3 linked regions of the Homo sapiens genome follow. The protein of the gene in region 1 interacts with the protein of each later gene in a pairwise test. Each region holds a gene or a part of one and is shown in the gene's direction. Other genes may lie near its edges.

Region 1 (7,027 bases):
ATGGAAGCTGGCACCATGGAGAAGGCACAGGCATGGCAAGAGTGGCTCCCAGTCCCCACCAGGAACAGGGTGTGTGGACACTGGTGCCTGCCTTATTCATCAGTTCATACCTTCTGCCAAGGATTGCAATTCATCCAAAAGAGATTGAACCAGGCTGATAAGAGCCTGGATGTGCAGCCTATCCTGGTTCCTCTTTCACCCCCACATAAACAGCAGGAAATACATTAGTGTGAAATAGATACAACACCCCAAGAGATGAGGCTCAGCCCAGTGGGAAGGGAATCAGAGGCTACTAGAGACAGAGGGACAGAGAAGAGGGAGGGAGACAGATGGAAGGACCTGCACCAGGAGTTAAGGGCACAGAAAAGAACATGAAGACACAGAGAGGAAGGAGAGAGACAGACACCAGCAAGGGGAAGCCTCACTCATTCTAGGTGCCATGGATGGGATGATAAAGAGAGACACCTTCTAAACTCACAACCTCTCTTCCTAGGAGTCCACAGAAAACCTTCCCTCCTGGCCCACCCAGGTCCCCTGGTGAAATCAGAAGAGACAGTCATCCTGCAATGTTGGTCAGATGTCAGGTTTCAGCACTTCCTTCTGCACAGAGAAGGGAAGTTTAAGGACACTTTGCACCTCATTGGAGAGCACCATGATGGGGTCTCCAAGGCCAACTTCTCCATCGGTCCCATGATGCAAGACCTTGCAGGGACCTACAGATGCTACGGTTCTGTTACTCACTCCCCCTATCAGTTGTCAGCTCCCAGTGACCCTCTGGACATCGTCATCACAGGTGAGAGTGTCCGGACATTCTCATTGTCATTGGGATGCAGAGTGAATGATCCACGACTTGGAACCCCCAGGTAGTTGTAAGGAAGATGAGCTTGGTATTCTTATGGAGAGAGACTGACTTGCTGAGGTTTGTACCAACAGAGACAGAGAAACAGGAGACACAAGTACAGACCAGGTGTCATAACAGAGGACAGACACAGGGGCCATACAGGGAGTTAGAAAAGACAGAAAGAGTTAAAAGAGACAGACAGACAGACATGTCCCAGAGAGAGGTGTCCCTCCATGCTGACTTTGCTCACAGACCTGGCACAGGTTAGAAGTTTCATTTCTGTTTTACCTCCACAAAGTGTTCTCTACCAGGAGAACCCAAGGACACCCATATTTATGACCTGAGTTGGGCCCTGTGGCCTCAGGCCTTGTGGCACCTACAGGCCATGTTTATTCTGACACCTCTGCCTTCCATGTAATGGAGAGTAATCGTCCCAGGATATCATGGCCCCAGAACACCAACCCCTGTATGCTGTGTGAACTTGTGGTCTCCAGACTGGATTCTGTGGCTCACATTCCAAATAACCCCACATATGAAAGGATCACTGAGAGGCACAGAGAAAAATCAGGAACACCAAAAAGCAAAGACATAAACACACAGAGAATGAGCCAGAGGAAGGAGATTGAGAGACTCACAGACACATAAAGAGAGAGAAAAGAGGGCAGAGGAGTGGTGAGAATGATGGCAGGGAGCAGAGAAAAGCACTAAAATTAGAGTCCTGAGAGAGAGGCACAAGGACATAGAAACATGGAGATGTGGGGATGAATTGCAGAGATTCCAAAGAGAACTAGAGAGACCGAGAGGCAGAGCAAGACAGATGATAGATGGATAGATATAGATAGATGATAAATAGGTAGATGATAGATAATAGGTTAAAGATACATAGATGATGATTGATTGATTCATTAATAGATAATACATAGAGATGATGATGATGAAGACAGATAATACGTACAGATAGAGAGGCAGACAGAAATCATAGAGAGAGAGATGATACATACATATAAATAACAGATGATTGATGGATAGATAGACAAGTGATAGATACATAGATGATATATAGATATAGATGACAGGTAGAGAATTTGTAGATAGGCACCGAATAGATAAATAGATAGATCGACAGATAATAGATAGAAATATGCAGAAAGTTATGAACAGGACACAACGTGAGAAACTTAGAATTTAAAAAAGTAACATCAAGTCAACCAATCCAAGGAGAGTCAGAGAGAATAAAAGAATCCAAAAAGGGAAAACATATCTAGAGGTGGGGAAGCGAGGTCAGAGACCTAGAGAGACAGAGAAGGTGGAAGAAGGAAATAGACATGAAGAGAGATGGGGTGGAGGGTGAGAGAGAGAGAGAGAGAGAGCATTAGGTCATAGAGCAGGGGAGTGAGTTCTCAGCTCAGGTGAAGGGAGCTGTGACAAGGAAGATCCTCCGTAAGGAAAATGCCTCTTCTCCTCCAGGTCTATATGAGAAACCTTCTCTCTCAGCCCAGCCGGGCCCCACGGTTCTGGCAGGAGAGAGCGTGACCTTGTCCTGCAGCTCCCGGAGCTCCTATGACATGTACCATCTATCCAGGGAGGGGGAGGCCCATGAACGTAGGTTCTCTGCAGGGCCCAAGGTCAACGGAACATTCCAGGCCGACTTTCCTCTGGGCCCTGCCACCCACGGAGGAACCTACAGATGCTTCGGCTCTTTCCGTGACTCTCCATACGAGTGGTCAAACTCGAGTGACCCACTGCTTGTTTCTGTCACAGGTGAGGAAACCCCATATCTGTCTCATGTCCTATGATCCTAGAGCCTTAGCTGAGGAGCTTCCTGCTGATGATGGAGAGAAGCATGGACAGATGCAGAGAGAAGACGAAGCTTGGGTGTGAGGGAGGGATCAGGGCACAGGATGGCAGACAGGGCACCTCCAAACCCTCCTACACGGCCTGCATGAAGGCCCGCGGCCAGGGCTCCAGGCACACAGGCAGATGGAGAAAACGGTCAGGAGAGACCCAGAGGAGAGAGACTGGGCTCAGTTTGGGAAGATCAGAGGTTCCCTCAGCCCCTCAACATTACCCATTTCCCAGAAGCCCATCCTGGCCTCTCACCCACACAGGGATGTCATCACCAGCAACCCCTACACCCTTTACTTTTGTTTGAAGAAATATTTATTGAGGATAAATATACCTATATAGCTTACCACCTTTAACATTTTTTTTTTTTTTGAGGCAGAGTCTAGCTCTGTCCCCTATGCTGGAGTGCAGTGGCACAATCTCAGCTCACTGCAACTTCCGCCTCCTGGGTTCAAGTGATTCTCCTGCTTCAGCCACCTGAGTAGCTGGTGCTACAGGCGCGCACCACCACGCCAGGCTACTTTTTGTATTTTTAGTAGAGAGGGGGTTTCACCATGTTGGTCGAGCTGGTCTCCAACTCCTGACCACGTGATCCACCCGCATCTGCCTCCCAAAGTGCTGGGATTACAGGCATGAGCCACCACGCCCAGCCACATTTACCATTTTTAAGTGTAAAGTCTAGTGGTCATAAATACATTTATATATATATATATATATATATATATACACACACACACACATATATAAACATATATATATATATATATATATATATATATATATTTTTTTTTTTTTTTTTTTTTTTACCCTCCACCCTTTTATTCCTGGCCTCTGGAAGCCACCATTCTACTCTCTACCTTCATGAGATCCACCTTTTAGCTCTGTATATGGGTGAGAAATGGGAATCTTTGTAATGACTTCCAGTTCCATCCATGTGGCTGCAAATATCAGGATGTTATTCTTTCTATGGATGAGTAGTCTCCACTGTGCGTATGTACTACATTCTCTCTATCCATTCATCCACTGATGGGCAGGTAGGTTGACTCCACATCTTGGCTACTGTGAACAGTGCTGCACCAATCATACGAGTGCAGATATCACTTCGATATATTGATTTACTTTCCTTTGGATATAAACCCAGTAGTGAAATTGCTGGATACTATGAAAGTTCTCTTTTTAGTTATTCGTTTGTTGTTTTGTTTTTGTTTTTGAGACAGTTTCCCTCTGTGCCCAGGCTGGAGTACAAGTGAAGTCATCTTGGCTCATTGCAACCTCCGCCTCCTGGGTTCAAATGATTTTCCTGCCTCAGCCTCCCTAGTAGCTGGGATTACAGGTGCACGCCACCATGCCTGGCTACTTTTTGTTTTTTTTAGTATAGATGGGGTTTCCCCATGTTGGCTGGGCTGCTCTCAAACTCATGACCTCAACTGAGGTGCCCGCCTCGGTCTCCCAAAGTGCCGGGATTACAGGCATGATCCACCTCACCCAACCTCTTTTTAGTTCTTTAAAGGACTTCCACACTTTTCTCCGTAAAGGCTGTACTAATTTACACTCCTACCAACAGGGTATTAGGGTTCTCCTTTCTCTACCACTTTGGCAGGATTTCCTTTGCCTGTCTTGCAGCTAAAAGCCATTTTATTTTATTTCATTTTATTTTGAGATGGAGTTTCGCTCTTGTCACCCAGGCTGGAGTGCAGTGGTGCGATCTCGGCTCACCACAACCTCCACCTCCCAGGTTCAAGCGATTCTCCTGCCTCAGCCTCCCGAGTAGCTGGAATTACAGGCACACGCCACCACGCCCAACTAAATTTTGTATTTTTAGTAGAGACAGTGTTTCTTCATGTGGGTCAGACTGGTCTCAAACTCCCGACCTTATGAGGTTCACCCACCTCAGGCTCTCAAAGGTCTAGGATGACAGACGTGAGCCACCACGCCCGGCCTAAAATCCATTTTAATGGGGTGAGATGAAAACTCACTTTGATTTTAATTTGTGTTTCTCTGATGATGAGTGAAACTGAGCACTTTTTAGTATGTGGGGAAATTTCATGTGTTTTGCTCCTTTTTCAATTAAATCGTTTGTTTTATTGAGTTGTTTGAGCTTCTTATATTTCTAGTTATTAATCCCATCTCAGATGCATAGTTTGCACATATTTGCTCCCAATCTGTGGGTTGTCTCTTCACTTTGTTGGTTTATTTTTAGCGGTGCAGAAGTTGCTTAGTTTGAGGTAATCCCAATGGTCTATTTTTGCTTCGATTACTTGTGTTTTGAAGGTTTAAAACAAAATGTCTTCCTTCAGACAAATGTCCTGGAGCATTTCCCCAATATTTTCTTCTACGTGTTTCATAGGTTCAGGCCTTAGACTCACATCTTTAATCCATTTTCATTTGAGTTTTGTGTATAGTGACAGGTAGAGGTGCAGTTTCATTCCTCTGCATGTAGATGTCCAGGTTTCCCTGCACTGTTTATTGAAAAGACTGTCCTTTCCTGATTGTGAGTTCTTGGCACCTTTGTCAAAGTCCATTGGATGGGCTGGGCATGGTGGCTGACACCTGCAATTTCAGCACTTTGGGAGCCCAAGGCGGGTGGATCACCTGAGGCCAGGAGTTCAAGATTAGTCTGGCCGACGTGATGAAACATTGTCTCCACTAAAAATATAAAAATTAGCTGAGCATGGTGGTCAGCACCTGTAATACCACTACTCAGGAGTTTGAGGCCAGAGAATTGATTGAACCCAGGAGGCTGTGGTGGCAGTGAACCGAGATTGCACCTCTGCACTCCAGCCTGGGTGACAGAGCGAGACTCCATCTCAAAAGAAAAAAGAAAAAAACATTGGAGGTAAATGCATGGATTATATCTGTGTTCTTCATTCTGCTCCATTGTTCTACGTGCCTTTCTTTATGCCAATGTGATGCTGTTTTGCTTACTACAGCTCTGTAACATATTTTGAGATCAGGTAGTGTGATGCTCCTGTTTTCTCTTTATACCTTGAAGTCTCAAGACAGTGGGCGTCACATACAAAAATTACGGAAAAAAGGATCCCAGGACTCCCAGGGCCCAATATTAGATAACAGAGTGTTGGCCATGAACCAACCTCAAAGATTTCCATTGAGTAGAGGACAGACACCCTCATTTCCTCACCTCTCTCCTGTCTCGTGTTCTAGGAAACCCTTCAAATAGTTGGCCTTCACCCACTGAACCAAGCTCCGAAACCGGTGAGTACAGAACCCTCTTATATCCGCTTTTGGAAACCTGGGGAGGTAGAAACCTTCGATGCAGGCATTGACTCAGCATCTCGCAGCTCTGACATTGTACGCCTGTCTTCTACCATCTCCGAACTCCAGATACTCCAACAGCGAAAGGGATCTGGGCCCAACCTAGGGCTCAGTGAAATCTCTTAATCTCTCATTTTATGGAGCTGAGACCTCCTACAAGCTAGAAGAATGATTGCCAATCTGACATCCTTCTCAGGAAAAATGCAATGTTTGTTCTGCCTGCATTCCTAACTGGAGGATAAATTCCTGGGGGCTTGAGAGAGGGAAGGGAAGGGAACATCTGATGAGGGCGAGGTGTTTTAGAGAAGTTCCACTTGCCAAGGAATGAATTACTGTTGGTCATGAAGCAACCCTGGCTGACTCAGCAGAGCAACAGCCTTGCCGTAACAGAGAACGGAGCTCATGCACGCACACTTCGACTCACTGACTCATTCAGCCACGGCCCCATGCTCAGGCTGTGCAGTGCGGAACCTTTTCCTATTGTTGCCATAACAAATTTCCACAAGATTCGTGGGTGAAAACAAAACGGTTTTTTAATTATCTTACAGTGCTGTAGCTCAAAGTAGGAAGTGCATCTTACTGGGCTAAAATCAAGGTGACAGCAAGGCTGCCTTCCCTCTGAGGATTCCAGGCAAGAATCTGCTTCTCACTTATCCCAGCTTCTAAAGGCTCCCAGTTCCTTGGCTCCTGTTCCCCTTCCTCCTTCCTCAAAGCCCACAAAGACTGGTCACATCTCACATGGCATCACTCAGTGCCTTCTTCCTTACCACACCTCTTTCTCTGAATGCTGCTCTCCCTTCTTCCTTATCTTTTGAAAACTTGGGGATTCTATTGGGTTCACCAAGATGAAAATCCCTCATAATCTCCTGGAAATCATCCAGGATACCCTTGTTTTAAGTTCAGCTGATTAGCAACCGCAATTCCATCTACAATCTTCATTCCTCCTTTCCATGTAAAATAACATATTCACAAGCTATGGAGGCTAGGACAGGGACATTTTGGGGTGGGACAGCATTCTCCTGCCTTCCACAAACGGTGAACAAGATGCATTTGGCTTCTGCCCTTGGG
Region 2 (7,027 bases), on another chromosome or scaffold:
CTACCAATATAAGGTGTCTTGTGAGGTACTCAGGGTCCTATTTGCCCTACAGAAGGGGAATCGCATATTCTTCCAAAGGCCAAGGGGACAAGCTCTTGTCTTTGTCTCCCATCCCCCATGCTTCATTCATGTAGAGTTTGGGCATTCACCGCAGAGAGAGACTCATCACCATTAGCTTCATTGTCTTTGAATGCGAGGAGCAGAAATATCTCTAATGGGAGACACTGATCAAACTTATGGACCATTTTGATGTCAGCTGAGCATGCTGGGCTGATGATAAGCAGGATGGAAGCTGGGGGAGTCCACAGCTTTGGGACAGAGATGTTCAATAGAAACCGATGGAATGGCTGACAGCAGGGCTCATAATTACTTGTCTGTCTTTCAAGTGAACTTCAGGACTAAAAGTTGTTAGCTAGTGGTTCCTAATTGACTGTCTAGAGATTGCTTGATGATATCCACTGTTTTCTGAGTTGGCAGAATTTTTCAGAGAACTCTGAGAATGGCCCAACCCTGTTTGTGCAGCTAATTAAACTCCCCTTGTTAAAATGCAATGCAAGATTTTTTTTTTGCTAGACTGTTATTATAATAAGCTATTTCTTCAAAAGTCCTTGATATGTCGGTCTTTTCTGTAAAAGCCTTGGCATGCTTGAGTTGGAGTCTTTCTATCTTTGGAGAAATGAGTAAAGCTGGTTTCAAGGGAAGCTGGCCTCTCTGATAGGTTCCTGGTGTATCTTACCGAGTCTTTATTCATCTCTGGCAAAGACCCTTCCCCTATTCAAACCCTGCTGTCCACCCCTATGTTCGACATAAATCTGCTTGTTTCTCCTCCCTACTCCTGAACTGTTTCCCACGTAGGGATGTGATTGGAAAAGAAAATTGAGACCAAGGTAATAAATTTTGACTAAACACATAAAAAATATGATTGGATACACACACATATTTTTTTTTTCTGCTCATCTTGAAACTTAAATTAAATTAAAAACAACTTAGATGCAAAAGCCTTGATTGGCCCCGAGGCCAGTGATAAAATAAGTCTTCATTATAGAAGCATCTAGACCCAGCTTGATCAGGCATTATGGAGGTTGGTGGCCATTAAATGCACAGGACCCATTACACCACCTGCAGCTGGCTGACCTGAACTTTGAGAGACATGGCCAGAGTCACTTCTGGCTCTGAAGACCATTGCTGTCTCCTTAGAGGTTTCATAAAAAGTCCCTTCAGGCTGATGTTCCACAGGTGAGCTTTGGGTTGGCTTTCAGATGAGATCATTAAAAGGCACAGCAAATTGGCTGCCAAGGGTTACTCTGTAAGGCAATAGTAGTAATAAAAAAATGTTAATTGTGCTGGGATCCTCTTGGGGAAGTTCAAAGGGGACAAAAGAAAAACAGGATCTTTCAAAAGTGTCATTTAAAAATATGCGGTGGCACTGAAGTGTGAGTCTGAATATCTTAAATGAACATAAAATATTTTAAAATGACTTTTTCTGCAAATGGTAAGCTGGAAAAAAACTTTTATTAAAAAAAATTGCACAAAACCTTCAAGCTCATACGCTATTCACTTTCTAACAAATGGCTGGTTCCCATTTTGAAGGATGTTAATTTGCAATTTCCCAGGCGATGAGAGGATATGAATTTGCATCATATATTTTCACTGTAGCCCACATCTTTGGTGATTCCCTCATTCTGATGAAAAGGAATTGGATTGGGTTGGGGTGAAGGTGAGGAAGAGAAAATGAGCAGTAGAAGGAAAGAGAATGTGACATTTTCAGATCACCTACTCTGTGCCAGGGACTTGGCTCACATTACTTCGTTAATACTGAGGACAACCCTGTGAAGTAGGTTATCTCTATTTTACAGATGAAGGAACTAAGAATTAAGGAGATTTCACATCTAGCAAGTGCTAGAATTGAAATTCAAACTTAGCACTCTCATAGCTTCTTTATTTCCCTTTCCTTGCATAGAGATAGGAATAATCTCCTTTAAGACTCCAGAATGGCCGGGCGCGGTGGCTCACGCCTGTAATCCCAGCACTTTGGGAGGCCGAGGTGGGTGGATCACGAGGTCAGGAGATCGAGACCACCCTGGCTAACACGGTGAAACTCCGTCTCTACTGAAAATACAAAAAATTAGCCAGGCGTGGTGGCGGGCTGTAGTCCCAGCTACTTGGGAGGCTGAGGCAGGAGCATAGAGTAAACCCGGGAGCCGGAGCTTGCAGTGAGCCGAGATCGCGCCACTGCACTCCAGCCTGGGCGACAGAGTGAGACTCCGTCTCAAAAAAAAAAAAAAAAAAAAAAAAAGCCTCGAGAATGGGGAATCTTCCTTTAGGTAAAGTCTGCTGGCGTAGTGGTTTTCGTACAACCAGTGGCGATGTGGCTAAACGCTGGGTGGTCCCCACCTGTGAAAACAAAGCTGTTTTAGCTTGTTTCTATGATTCTATTCATTTATGTATTGGACTCCACTTACTTGCCTGTAAGTACTCTCGACAAGCCAATTTCTGTCACTCCAGTTGCCAAAAGCTCAGATTCCAGCTTGTTATTGATGTTCAACTTGTTATTATTTGCAGTTGTTTTCCAATTTCACCGGCTCCGTGGATGACCGTGGGACCTGCCAGTGCTCTGTTTCCCTGCCAGACACCACCTTTCCCGTGGACAGAGTGGAACGCTTGGAATTCACAGCTCATGTTCTTTCTCAGAAGTTTGAGAAAGAACTTTCCAAAGTAAGCATTTTCTTTTCAAACAATATCTTGATAAAGAGAAACAAAACAAAATGTGTTTTAATTTAGGATTTTATAAGCAATCATTCTTCACTATCAAAGACATCACGTTTTTATTCTATGGTGATTTTAGTATTTATTTTATAGGACACCAATGGAGTTCTTATTAAGGCAGGGAAAATGAGAGCACAGGAAGAAAGTGGGGTTCAAATTGTTCACGCCGTGGATAAACTCACTATAGTATTGTGGTACTTAGGCAGTTGGAAAGAAGCCTTGAGCTCTCCTTGCAAACCCCAACCTGCAATTTTTATTTTGTTTTGACGCTGCTTCTTCCTTTTGGTCTTCTAGGTCTTTCCTCAAGCTTTGCTTTCTTTTCTTTCTTCTCCTCTATCCCCTTTAGTTCTATTCTATCTCCCTTCTCTTTTTCCTTTTCTTCTATTTCTATTCCATTCCTGCATCCTTTAGTTTCTTATTTCTCTTGCCTCAATCCTTGCCCTTATTCATCCCTTCTAATCTCTCTTTTCCTTTCCTGGTTAATTCTTTTTTGGGGGGGACATTTTTGGGTATTTTCTTACTTTTAGATGATCTTTTTTTCCCTCCTTCTTTTCCCTTCCTCCACTTCCACTCCTTCAAATCCTCTCCCTCTCATCCTCCTCCCTCCCTCTCTCTTTCCTTTAACCCTTTTTTATCTTTACAAATTGCTCACTTCCTTCTCTCTCCCCCTCACTCTCTTTTTTTGTGACAATAAGTTGTAGTCTCTTTTATTTTTTTCTATTTTCTCCAAGTGAAATCCAAGGTTGTAGTCTCTTTATTTTTAATCTTATTTTTTTTTGGTGTATAGTAGGTGTATGTATTAATGGGGTACATGAGATACCCTGAGACAGGCATGCAATGCGTAATAATCACATCATGGAAAATGGAGTGTCCATCCCCTCAAGCATTTATCTTTTGTGTTACAAACCATCCAATTAGACTCTTTTACTTATTTTAAAATGTACAATGAAATTATTATGGACTATAGTCACCCTGTTGTGCTGTTGAATACTAGGTCTTATTTATTCTTTCTAACTACTTTTATTTTTTACCCTTTAACTATCCCCACTTCCATCCTCACCCTCCATCTCTTTCTTGATGGTTATCTTCTATTGTCTCAGCAGGAACATTACATTTGATGTGTCCAATATTAGACAAAAATTGAAGGCTTCCCTGGGAATTTGAATCAAGACTAATAGGTTTCTCAGCCTTGGTAAAAACACTGACTTGAACTCTGATTACTGTTTTTTTCTTTAGCCAGAGGAAGTTATCTTAAAGGGTTTGCCTTTCTCTGGGCTGGCTGGAGCAATGTGACTTGGTGTTCTAGTTTTGACTCCTTCCACCTTTTCAGCCCAAGTTAAAAATCAATTAGAAAAGTTCCTATTTTCTGCACAGGTGAAGTCCAAGCTAGTCTATAATCACATTATGCATTATTTAATACAACTCCATTAATTTACAAGGAGCTCTGGCTTTACTGCAAGATTCAGAATAAGTTTTCCTAAGAAATTTGAGCTTTGCCACCTCAACATCCAACATAGTTATCCTTTAAAACAAAAATTATGATGAGGCTGAGACCCTACTTTCAGCCTGAATTGGTAGATAAATATTCTAAGTTTAAATGAGTGTCCAGGAAAATGTGTTTGACTACTCTAGAAACCTAGCTGCTTAAGAAATATAATGTCCTTGAATTAATCAGTGGAAAAGGCACAGCATTAAATTATAAATTCTAACCATTAATATTCATAGCCTTATTCCAGCATAATCAAGTACAGATAAGAAGTTATGCATAAAAACATAACAAGTAGAGGAAAATCCTAGGTAAAGATCTTTTCAGTTAGAGTCATTTGCTTTGAAATAGTGGAAACTACTGATTTACATGTTGTCTTTGCTGGCAGCAGTGTGAAAGGCAGTTTGAAACCTTATGTGCTCCAGGGAGAGTATGTGGCTTGCCAGGTTTGTGAATATGGGACATTTAATTCCAATACTGTACGGGGGGCTGGTAACATCTGCTTTGCTAATGACAGATAGGGAAGAAGTGCAGAATAGGTGGGAAAGTTTTAGTTCTGAATGTGTCGGTGGCTGCTCTGATCCCAAAAAAACTGTGATTGTGGCCTAAGAAAAAAGTTTATCTGCTAGCTAGGATTTATATAATCGATTTAGTGTGACAGGTGATAATAACAACAATAATAGTAGCAGTTTGTTTGTGCTTTTTCAAATGCTTCCAGTTCTATTCTCTCCTCTCAAGTAACCCTTTAAGGCAGATAGGCCAGGTGTTGTCTCTCCCATTTTAGAGACAGTAAAACTGCAGTTCATAAAGGTAAGGAGACTTGCCCAAGGTCATTCCTCTCTTGGCTGGTTAAGCCAGGTCAGAATTCGAGTCTTCAAAATCATCTCAACTCTCTTTCCTCTTGGCCATGCTGTTAGCATCCTCCAAGGTAGGCCCAGGAAGAGATGCAGTAGTAATGCCTTCAAATCCAAAGTTATCCCTTTAGCTGAGGGCTTTCGAATTTCCAAGTGAGTTATTACAGCTGTCCCTAGGTTGCCTTGAAAATTGTCATTTATCCGGGGGCCTGGGAGAATGCCCGTTTAGGACAGGCCAGTAGAAAAGGTTTTTGACTGCCTTACATTGATTCATTGTCTGTCAGTACACAGAGAAGACAGGGAGCTGCCTCTGCATAAGATGCTGAAAGCATTTTATACTTTTCTGTTGTTTACGGTATGTCCTTTTGTGACTATACTTAGGAAAGGGATGGCACAAAAGGCAGCTCAGGATTTTCTCTTTCTCTGGAGGCTTATGGTCTTTGGCATGAGTTATTTAATATGACACATTTGCTAGTAGATCCTCATGCACGGGAAGGTTGAGGCAGCCTAGGAGACATTAAGGCAACCCATAAAGAAATAACATTGATTGAGCCGTATTTGTATAGTGAAATATAATAAATTAAAAGGTCAGATTGGAAAATGCTGAAATTACTGTTTCTCTATTAATTTCTATAATTCATAGGGCCTCCATTAACTAGGCACTTAACGTACATTATCTCTAGTCTTTATGATAATCTTGTAAGCTCAGTATCATTACCCCCAGTTTACAGGAAACTAAGGGTTAAAGAAATTAAGTGATTTGCCCACTAAGTACTGAAGTTAGATTTGAGTCTAGTTGGGTCTAGCTCCAAAGTACTTTATATGTCTTTACAATCACTCCAGGCTCAATGAACCCTGTTACGTTTACTTTGAAACATATATTGAAAATAGTAGTATGTTGCAAAGTAAACGTACTTATTTCAAATAGTCTGGCCATAGTTATAATCACAGGTTTTGAGAGACTGGCAGAAACATGAACCAGATTAATTCTTTAGCTTGCTAGCACTACACCCTTATTTATTACAAGACCACATTAATTATAAGGAACAATAACAGGCACCCTCAAATCAACGCTCACACAAATTTTATTCCTCATCAATGATATAGTATGTGCATAACAAGCAAAATAAAATGGAAGCTGTGAATGTTAGGCTGGTGGCTTAAAGGCTCAACTAAAACATAGATGAGCCATCTAGTGCTCAGACTTGTCATGATGAGGAGCTTCGAGATAAAGATGTTGACACAGGACGTGTCTCCTCAAGGCTAGACCCATATTCTTGATAGAATGTTTAGCAGCGTCCCTGGTCTTTAGATGCCAATAGCACTCGCCCACCCCCCAGTTATGAGAACCAGGACAAAATCACCACCACTACCGCCCTCCCTCCATTTAGAACCACTTTTCTAGATCAAAATACAGCCATAGGTCAGCTAAAGACAGGGACATGTTCTGATAAATGCATCGTTAGGTGATTTTAACATTGGTGAACGTCATTGTATACTTACACAAACCTAGAGGGTGTAGCCAACTACACACTCAGGCTATATGATATAGCCTATTGCCAGGCTACAAACCTGTACAGCCTGTGACTGTACTGAATAATGTAGGCAATTATAATACAATGGTAAGTTTTTGTGTGTGCATATATATCTAAACATAGAAAAGGTACAGTAAAAATATGATATTTATAATCTCATGGGACCACTGTCATATATGCAGTCTGTCATAGACAAAAATGTTATGCAGCAAATGACTGTATTTTCCAGAAGAAGAAAAAAATGCAGAAAGTGCCCCAAGTGCCAGATGTGGGACTGGAGGCTCCCAGGCAGGCTGGGCTGCCTCTCCCAAGACTGCACCTCCCAGGAGGAGCTGACATGTGGTCAGCATTGTCCACGCATTCCCAAAGCTACAGATTCATATATG
Region 3 (7,027 bases), on another chromosome or scaffold:
CTGCCTGGGCCAATACTGTTCTAGCCTCTGAATACACAGCCAGGAACAAGAGAGGCAAACAGCCAAATCCCTATTCTCCTGGGGCTCATGTCCTGGCTGGGGAGACAGAAAATAAGCCTGTAAAAATTAATTACTATTATTATTGTTATTATTTTTATTTGTATTATTGTTTACTTAAAGACCAGTGTGATAGTACAGTTAAAAAAAAATTAGAAAGCGATGAGGCCAGTCACAGTGGCTCACACCTATAATCTCAGCTATGGGAGGCCAAGGTGGGAGGTTCTCTGGAGCCCAGGAGTTCAAGACAGGCTGGGCAACATGGTGAAACTCCATCTCTACAAAAAATTTAAAAATTAGCCAGGTTATGGTAACATGCACCTGTGGACCCAGCTACTTGGGAGGCTGAGGTGGGAGGATCGCTTGAGCCTATGAGATCAAGGCTGTAGAGACCCATGATCATGCCATTACACTCCAAACTGGGCAACAGAGTGAGACCCTGTCTCTAAAAAAGAGAGAAATGAGTGTTAGGGGACAGGCCCAGTGGATCATGCCTGTAATCCCAACACTTTGAAAAGCTGAGATGGGAGAACCGCTTGAGGCCAGGAGTTCAAGACCAGCCTCGGCAACATAGTGAGACTCATCTCTACAAAAATTAAAGAATTAGCTGGGCGTCCGCCAGGCATGGTGGCTCACGCCTGTAATCCCAGGACTTTGAGAGGCCAAGGTGGGTGAATCACTTGAGGCCAGGAGTTCGAGACCAGCCTGGCCAACATGGCAAAACCCTGTCTCTATCAAAATTACAAAAATTAGCCGGGCGTGGTGGTGGTGCCTGTAATCCCAGCTACTCGGGAGGCTAAGGCATGAGAATCACTTGAACCTGGGAGGCCGAGGTTGCAGTGAGCCAAGATCGCGCCGCTGCACTCCAGCCTGGGGGAGAAAGTGAGACTCTGTCTTCAAAAAAAAAAAATTAGCCAGGCATGGTGGCATGTGCCTGTAGTCCCAGTGACTTGGGAGGCCAAGTCAGGAGGAACTTGAGTCTAAGAATTCAAGACTACAGTGGAACTATGATTGTACCACTTCACTCCAGCCTGAGTGACAGAGCAAGATCCTGTCTTTAAAAAAAAAAAAAAAAACGGCCAGGCACTGGGGCTCACGCCTGTGATCCCAGCACTTTGGGAGGCCCAGGCAGGCAGATCACATGAGGTCAGGAGTTCGAGACCAGCCCAACCAACATGGCGAAACCCCATCTTACTAAAAATAAAAAAATTAGGGCTGGGCGTGGTGGCTCACGCCTGTAATCCCAGCACTTCCCGAGGCAGGCGGATGACGAGGTCAGGAGTTCGAGACCAGCCTGGCCAACATAGTGAAACCTCATTTCTACTAAAAATACAAAAATTAGTCAGGCTTGGTGGCGGGCGCCTGTAATCCCAGCTACTCGGGAGTCTGTGGCAGGAGAATCACTTAAAACCAGAAGGCAGAGGTGGCAGTAAGCTGAAATCGCACCACTGCATTCCAGCCTGGGTGAAAGAGCAAAACTCCATCTCAAAAAAAAAAAAAAATTAGCCAGGTGTGGCGGCAGGTGACTGTAATCCCAGCTGCTTAGGAGGCTGAGGCATGAGAACCCAGGAGACCAAGATCATGCCATTGTACTCCAGCCTGGGCATGACAGAGCGCGACTCCATCTCAAAAAAAAAAAAAAAAAAAAAAAAAAAAATTAGCCGGGCATGGTGTAATCCCAGCTACTCAGGAGGCTGAGGCAGGAGAATCACTTGAACCTGGGAAGTGGAGGCTGCACTGAGCCGAGATCGTGCCACCGCGTGCCAGCCTGGGCAACAAGAGTGAAACTCCATCTCAAAAAAATAAAAAAGAAGAAGGCTGGGTGTAGTGGCTCACACTCTGGGAGGGTGAGGTAGGAGGATTACTTGAGCCCAGGAGTTCAAGACCAGACTGGGAAACGTAGCAAGACCCCATCTCTACAAGAAAATTAGCTGGGTGTGGTGGCATCTGCCTGTAGTCCTAGCTACCTGGGAGGCTCAGGTGGGAGAATCGCTTGAGCCGAGGAGGTCAAGGCTGCAGTGAGCCATGATCACACTACTGCGCTCTAGTCTGGGTAACAGGGCAAGACTCTGTCTCAAAAAAGAAAAGAAAAATAAGACAGCGTGATGTGAGAGAGTGCCTGGGGTGGGGGTCATTGTAGATGGACTGGCAGGAAGCATTCTCTGAGGAAGGACATCTAAACTGAGACCCAAATGATAAGGAGATGGCATCTGAAGGTCTGCCAGACAGAACAGTCAGTGCCAAGGCACTGAGGTGGGAATGTGCTGGGCAAGTTCAGGCTCAGAAAGCTGGGGGCTGGAGGGCTTCCAGCGATGGGGGATCTGAGAAGTCAGGGAGGGAGGCATCTGATCGGAGCCCCATCTCCCACTCTGAGCCTCCGTCTAAGTGTCCAGAGCTGCTGCTGCAGCCTCCAGGCTGATGTTGCTCCTAGGAGGAGTGGACAGTCCACCCCACTACCCTCCCAGGGTTGCCCTGACCCAGTTGTCCCTGCCCACAGGCATCTGTGGCTTCCTGACCTTTGGAGCTGCTGTGGATCCTGACGTGCTCCTGTCCTATCCCTCGGAGGACATGGCCGTGGCCGTTGCCCGAGCCTTCATCATCCTGAGCGTGCTCACCTCCTACCCTATCCTGCACTTCTGTGGGCGGTGAGCCCCCTTCCACTCCCCAGGGCCCCTCCTAGCCCCTGTGAGCGCTTCCAACATGGTCCTTTGGCCTTGTGTGGACCCCATCCTGTAGAAGGAGAAACTGAAGCCTGTAGAAAAGAGTCGGTGCCTAGGATGGGTCCCTACATATCCCAGGCCAGGTGTCAGAAGCGCCCTTTGTCCTGGGGTCACCAGAACATTCCGTGAGTCCTGTAAGAATCTCTATCCATGGCATGGCACGGTGGCTCACGTCTCTAAACCCAGCACTTTGGGAGGCTGAGGCAGAAGGATCGCTTGAGCCTGGGAGTTCAAGACCACCTGGGCAACCTAGTGAGACCCCATCTCTACACAAAATAAAATAAATAGCCAGGTGTGGTGGGATGCACCTGTGGTCCCAGCTACTCAGCCACTTGGGAGGCTGAGGCAGAAGGATGGCTGGAGCCCAGGAGTTCAAGGCTGCAGTGAGCCAAGATTGCACCACTGCACTCCAGCCTGGGTGAGAGAGCCAGACCCTGTCTCAAAAAAACAAAAAACAAAAGAATCTCTATCCAGATCCTTTCCTGAGCTTTCACATGGACACCCTCCCCTTTGGATGCCCCAGACAGTTCCTTTTAAGGAAAAAACAATATCAGTTTCCATGTGATGTAAAGCAAAGTGCTAAGCTCTCGACATTCACCGTCTCTAGTCCCTGTGGTAAACAGAGTGCTGGTGGCCCATTTTACAGAAGAGGAAACTGAGGGTCAGGAATGGGGCTTTCCCCGCAGTCTACCCAGTTAGGGGTCTGGCTCCTGTGAGCTAGAGGTGGGGAGCTGCTAGCAGCAGGGGCACCTCTAAGCCCTTCTCCATGTGGGCAGGGCGGTGGTGGAAGGCCTGTGGCTGCGCTACCAGGGGGTGCCAGTGGAGGAGGACGTGGGGCGGGAGCGGCGGCGGCGAGTGCTGCAGACGCTGGTCTGGTTCCTGCTCACCCTGCTGCTGGCGCTCTTCATCCCTGACATCGGCAAGGTGATCTCAGTCATTGGAGGCCTGGCCGCCTGCTTCATCTTCGTCTTCCCAGGTGCGGACCCCTGGCGCCCCATCTCACAGCCCCACAGCACAGACTCCCAGGGCCTGCCTAGCCTCAGCTCCCTACTTGCTCAAAACATGCAGGAGAGAGTAACCACCAGCACTAATTGATCACCTGTCTCGCCTCTGTACTAGCCCCTATCCAAGCATTATCTCCTGGAAAGAAGGTATAGTTGTGATCTCCAGTTTACTGATGGCACGTGGGGCTCAGAAAGGGTCACAGACTTGCCTAGAGCTTAACAAACTCAACTAGTAACCTTTTCCATCCCACGCTGTCTGGGTCCAGAGTCTATTCTTTTAACCATTCATTCAGGTGTCTGCTGCTCCTTGACTATGAGGGATCTATCTGGCTGGTTCAGCCCATTACAGCCCAGAGGGCAGTGGGGTCTGGGGTGGCACCCTGACACAGACATCAGGGAACCTGGGTTCCAGACACAGATCTACCGCCAGATCCCTGGAGAACTGTCCTGTCTGCCCAGCCATGAGTTCCACCCTTTTCCAGCTTGTCTCTATCCAGGAAGCCACCCTGAAAGCCCCAGCTGCTTTGCTTGGAGCAGGGGAGCCAGATCTGCTGGGAAGTGTACTAGGAAGACCCCTGGGGTTGGGCCACCACTGAGTCACCATTGAGTGCTGTCCCTTTAGCTGAGTCTAGCATGCTGCCCAAGGGGTCTTGTCAGATGCCAGCCTGTCATGGGAGAGCAGATGCCAGATGACCCCAGCAGGATGTGGTGTGGGGGCAGAGATGGAATTTCTAGAAGAGTAAACATGGGCCTTTCTCCATCCAGCACTGCTTCTTGGGAAAGGAGGTGGCTAGGAGGGAGGGAGCCCTCTCCCCTCACAAATGCTCAGGGCCACTTCTTCTCTTTCAGGGCTGTGCCTCATTCAAGCCAAACTCTCTGAGATGGAAGAGGTCAAACCAGCCAGGTAAAGCAGGACCCAGCCCTTGATCCTCTCAGGGAGGTGCTGGATTGGAATGTGGCTTTGTGGGGGCCTTAAAACAGATAGGAGTCAGAGGCTTGTGTACTTAGAAATCATGGGTTTTTGTTTTGTTTTTTTTTTTTTGAGCCGGAGTCTCGCTGTGTCGCCCAGCCTGGAGTGCAGTGGCACGATCTCAGCTCACTGCAAGCTCCGCCTCCTGGGTTCACACCATTCTCGTGCCTCAGCCTCCCGAGTAGCTAGGACTACAGATGCCTGCCACCACACCCAGCTAATTTTTGTATTTTTAGTAGAGACGAGGTTTCACCATGTTGGCCAGGCCGGTCTCGAACTCCTGACCTTAGGTGATCCTCCTTCCTCGGCCTCCCAAAGTGCTGGCATTACAGGCGTGAGCCACCACACCCAGCCAGGTTGTTGTTGTTTTTTTTTTAATACTTTTAAAAATTCGGTAGTGTGCTAGTTGTTAACAATTTAAACATTAATAAAGGGCTTAATACAAAAAGATGGAAGTCCCTCTTCCCCCACAACCCACTCGCCCCCACATCCTTTCTGAGATAGCTCCATGTTACCAGTATGGTCTGTGTCCTCAACCACTTCTGTACATGTGTGCGTGTCTGTGTACACATAGCTATGGAGATGTATACATAGATGCAGGGCTCTTGTTTTGTTTTATGAAAAGTGGTTTCAGCCAGGTGCATTGGCTCATGCCTGTAATCCCAGCACTTTGGGAGGCCAACATGGGCAGATCACCCGAGGTCAGGAGTTCGAGACCAGCCTGACCAACATGGTGAAACCCCATCTCTACTAAAAATACAAAATTAGCTGGGCATGGTGGCACCTGCCTGTAATCCCAGCTACTTGGGAGACTGAGGCAGGAGAATTGCTTGAACCCAGGAGGCGGAGGTTGCAGTGAGCCGAGATCACACCATTACACTCCAGCCTGGGCAACAAGAGGGAAACTCTGTCTCAAAAAAAAAAAAAAAAAAAAAAAAAAAAAGCCATACAAACATGTCTAAAAAAGAAAAAAAATTGGCCAGGCACAGTGACTCACGCCTGTAATCCCAGCACTTTGGGAGGCCAAGACAGGCAGATCACCTGAGGTCAGGAGTTCGAGACCAGCCTGGCCAACATGGCAAAACCCCGTCTTTACTAAAAATACAAAAATTACCTGGTTGTGGTGGCGCATGCCTGTAGTCCTAGCTCGGGAGGCTGAGGTAGGAGAATTGCTTGAACCCCGGAGGCGGAGGTTGCAGTAAGTGGAGATCGCACCACTGCACTCCAGCCTGGGTGATAGCAAAACTCTGTCTCAAAAAAAGAAAAAGAAGAAGAAGAAAAAAAATCACCCTTTATTTCTTTTTTTTTTGTCTTTTTTTTTTTTTTTTTTTTTGAGATGGAGTTTCACTCGTTGCCCAGGCTGGAGTGCAATGGCGCGATCTCTGCTCACTACAACAACCTCCACCTCCCGGGTTCAAGCGATTCTCCTGCCTCAGCCTCCTGAGTAGCTTGGATTACAGGCGCCCACCACCACACCCAGCTAATTTTTTGGGTTTGTTGTTGTTGTTTTGAGATGGAATCTCGCTCTGTCACCCAGGCTGGAGTGCAGTGGCATGATCTCGGCTCACTGCAACCTCCAGGGTATCTGGGATTACAGGTGCGCAGCACCATGCCTGGCTAATTTTTGTATTTTTGGTAGAGACGGGGTTTCACCATGTTGGCTAGGCTGATCTCGAACTCCTGACCTCAGGTGATCCGCCCACCTTGGCCTCCCAAAGTTCTGGGATTACAGGCGTGAGCCACCATACCCAGCCATTTTTTGTATTTTTTTAGTAGAGACGGGGTTTCACCACGCTGGCCAGGCTGGTCTCAAACTCCTGACCTCAGGTGATCCACCTGCCTTGGCCTCCCAAAGTGCTGGGATTATAGACATGAGCCACCACACCCAGCCTAATTTTTCTATTTTTAGTAGAGATGGGGTTTCGCCATCTTGCCCAGGCTGGTCTTGAACTCCTGACCTCAGGTGATCCATCTGCCTCGGCCTCCCAAAGTGCTGGAATTACAGACATGAGCCACTGCACCCAGCCTAATTTTTCTGTTTTTAGTAGAGATGGGGTTTTGCCATCTTGCCCAGGCTGGTCTCGAACTCCTGACCTCAGGTTGCCCGCCTTGGCCTCCCAAAGTGCTGGGATTACAGGTGTGAGCCACCACACCCGGCCGGAAATCACCCTTTATTTCAATTCCGTTTTATCCCTGTTGCTGTTAATTGGTACATACATTTGCAGATGTCTGCTTTTTGTTTCCTTTTTTTAATGAAATAGACCACATTCCATGTG

What was found.
Region 2: the proteins of KIR2DL3 (region 1) and OLFM4 interact in binary tests that used the Homo sapiens proteins (3 or more experiments, as listed by UniProt).
Region 3: the proteins of KIR2DL3 (region 1) and SLC38A7 interact in binary tests that used the Homo sapiens proteins (3 or more experiments, as listed by UniProt).

The regions. Positions count from the first base shown.
Region 1 is NC_000019.10:54,741,487-54,748,513, forward strand, and holds part of KIR2DL3 (killer cell immunoglobulin-like receptor 2DL3 precursor), read left to right. Parts: intron 1-493; coding exon 494-793; intron 794-2,308; coding exon 2,309-2,602; intron 2,603-5,848; coding exon 5,849-5,899; intron 5,900-7,027. UniProt on the Homo sapiens protein: Receptor on natural killer (NK) cells for HLA-C alleles (HLA-Cw1, HLA-Cw3 and HLA-Cw7). Inhibits the activity of NK cells thus preventing cell lysis.
Region 2 is NC_000013.11:53,031,786-53,038,812, forward strand, and holds part of OLFM4 (olfactomedin-4 precursor), read left to right. Parts: intron 1-2,562; coding exon 2,563-2,715; intron 2,716-7,027. UniProt on the Homo sapiens protein: May promote proliferation of pancreatic cancer cells by favoring the transition from the S to G2/M phase. In myeloid leukemic cell lines, inhibits cell growth and induces cell differentiation and apoptosis.
Region 3 is NC_000016.10:58,667,771-58,674,797, reverse strand, and holds part of SLC38A7 (sodium-coupled neutral amino acid transporter 7), read left to right. Parts: intron 1-2,554; coding exon 2,555-2,702; intron 2,703-3,553; coding exon 3,554-3,753; exon of another isoform or gene 3,754-3,928; intron 3,929-4,630; coding exon 4,631-4,685; intron 4,686-7,027. UniProt on the Homo sapiens protein: Symporter that selectively cotransports sodium ions and amino acids, such as L-glutamine and L-asparagine from the lysosome into the cytoplasm and may participates in mTORC1 activation. The transport activity requires an acidic lysosomal lumen.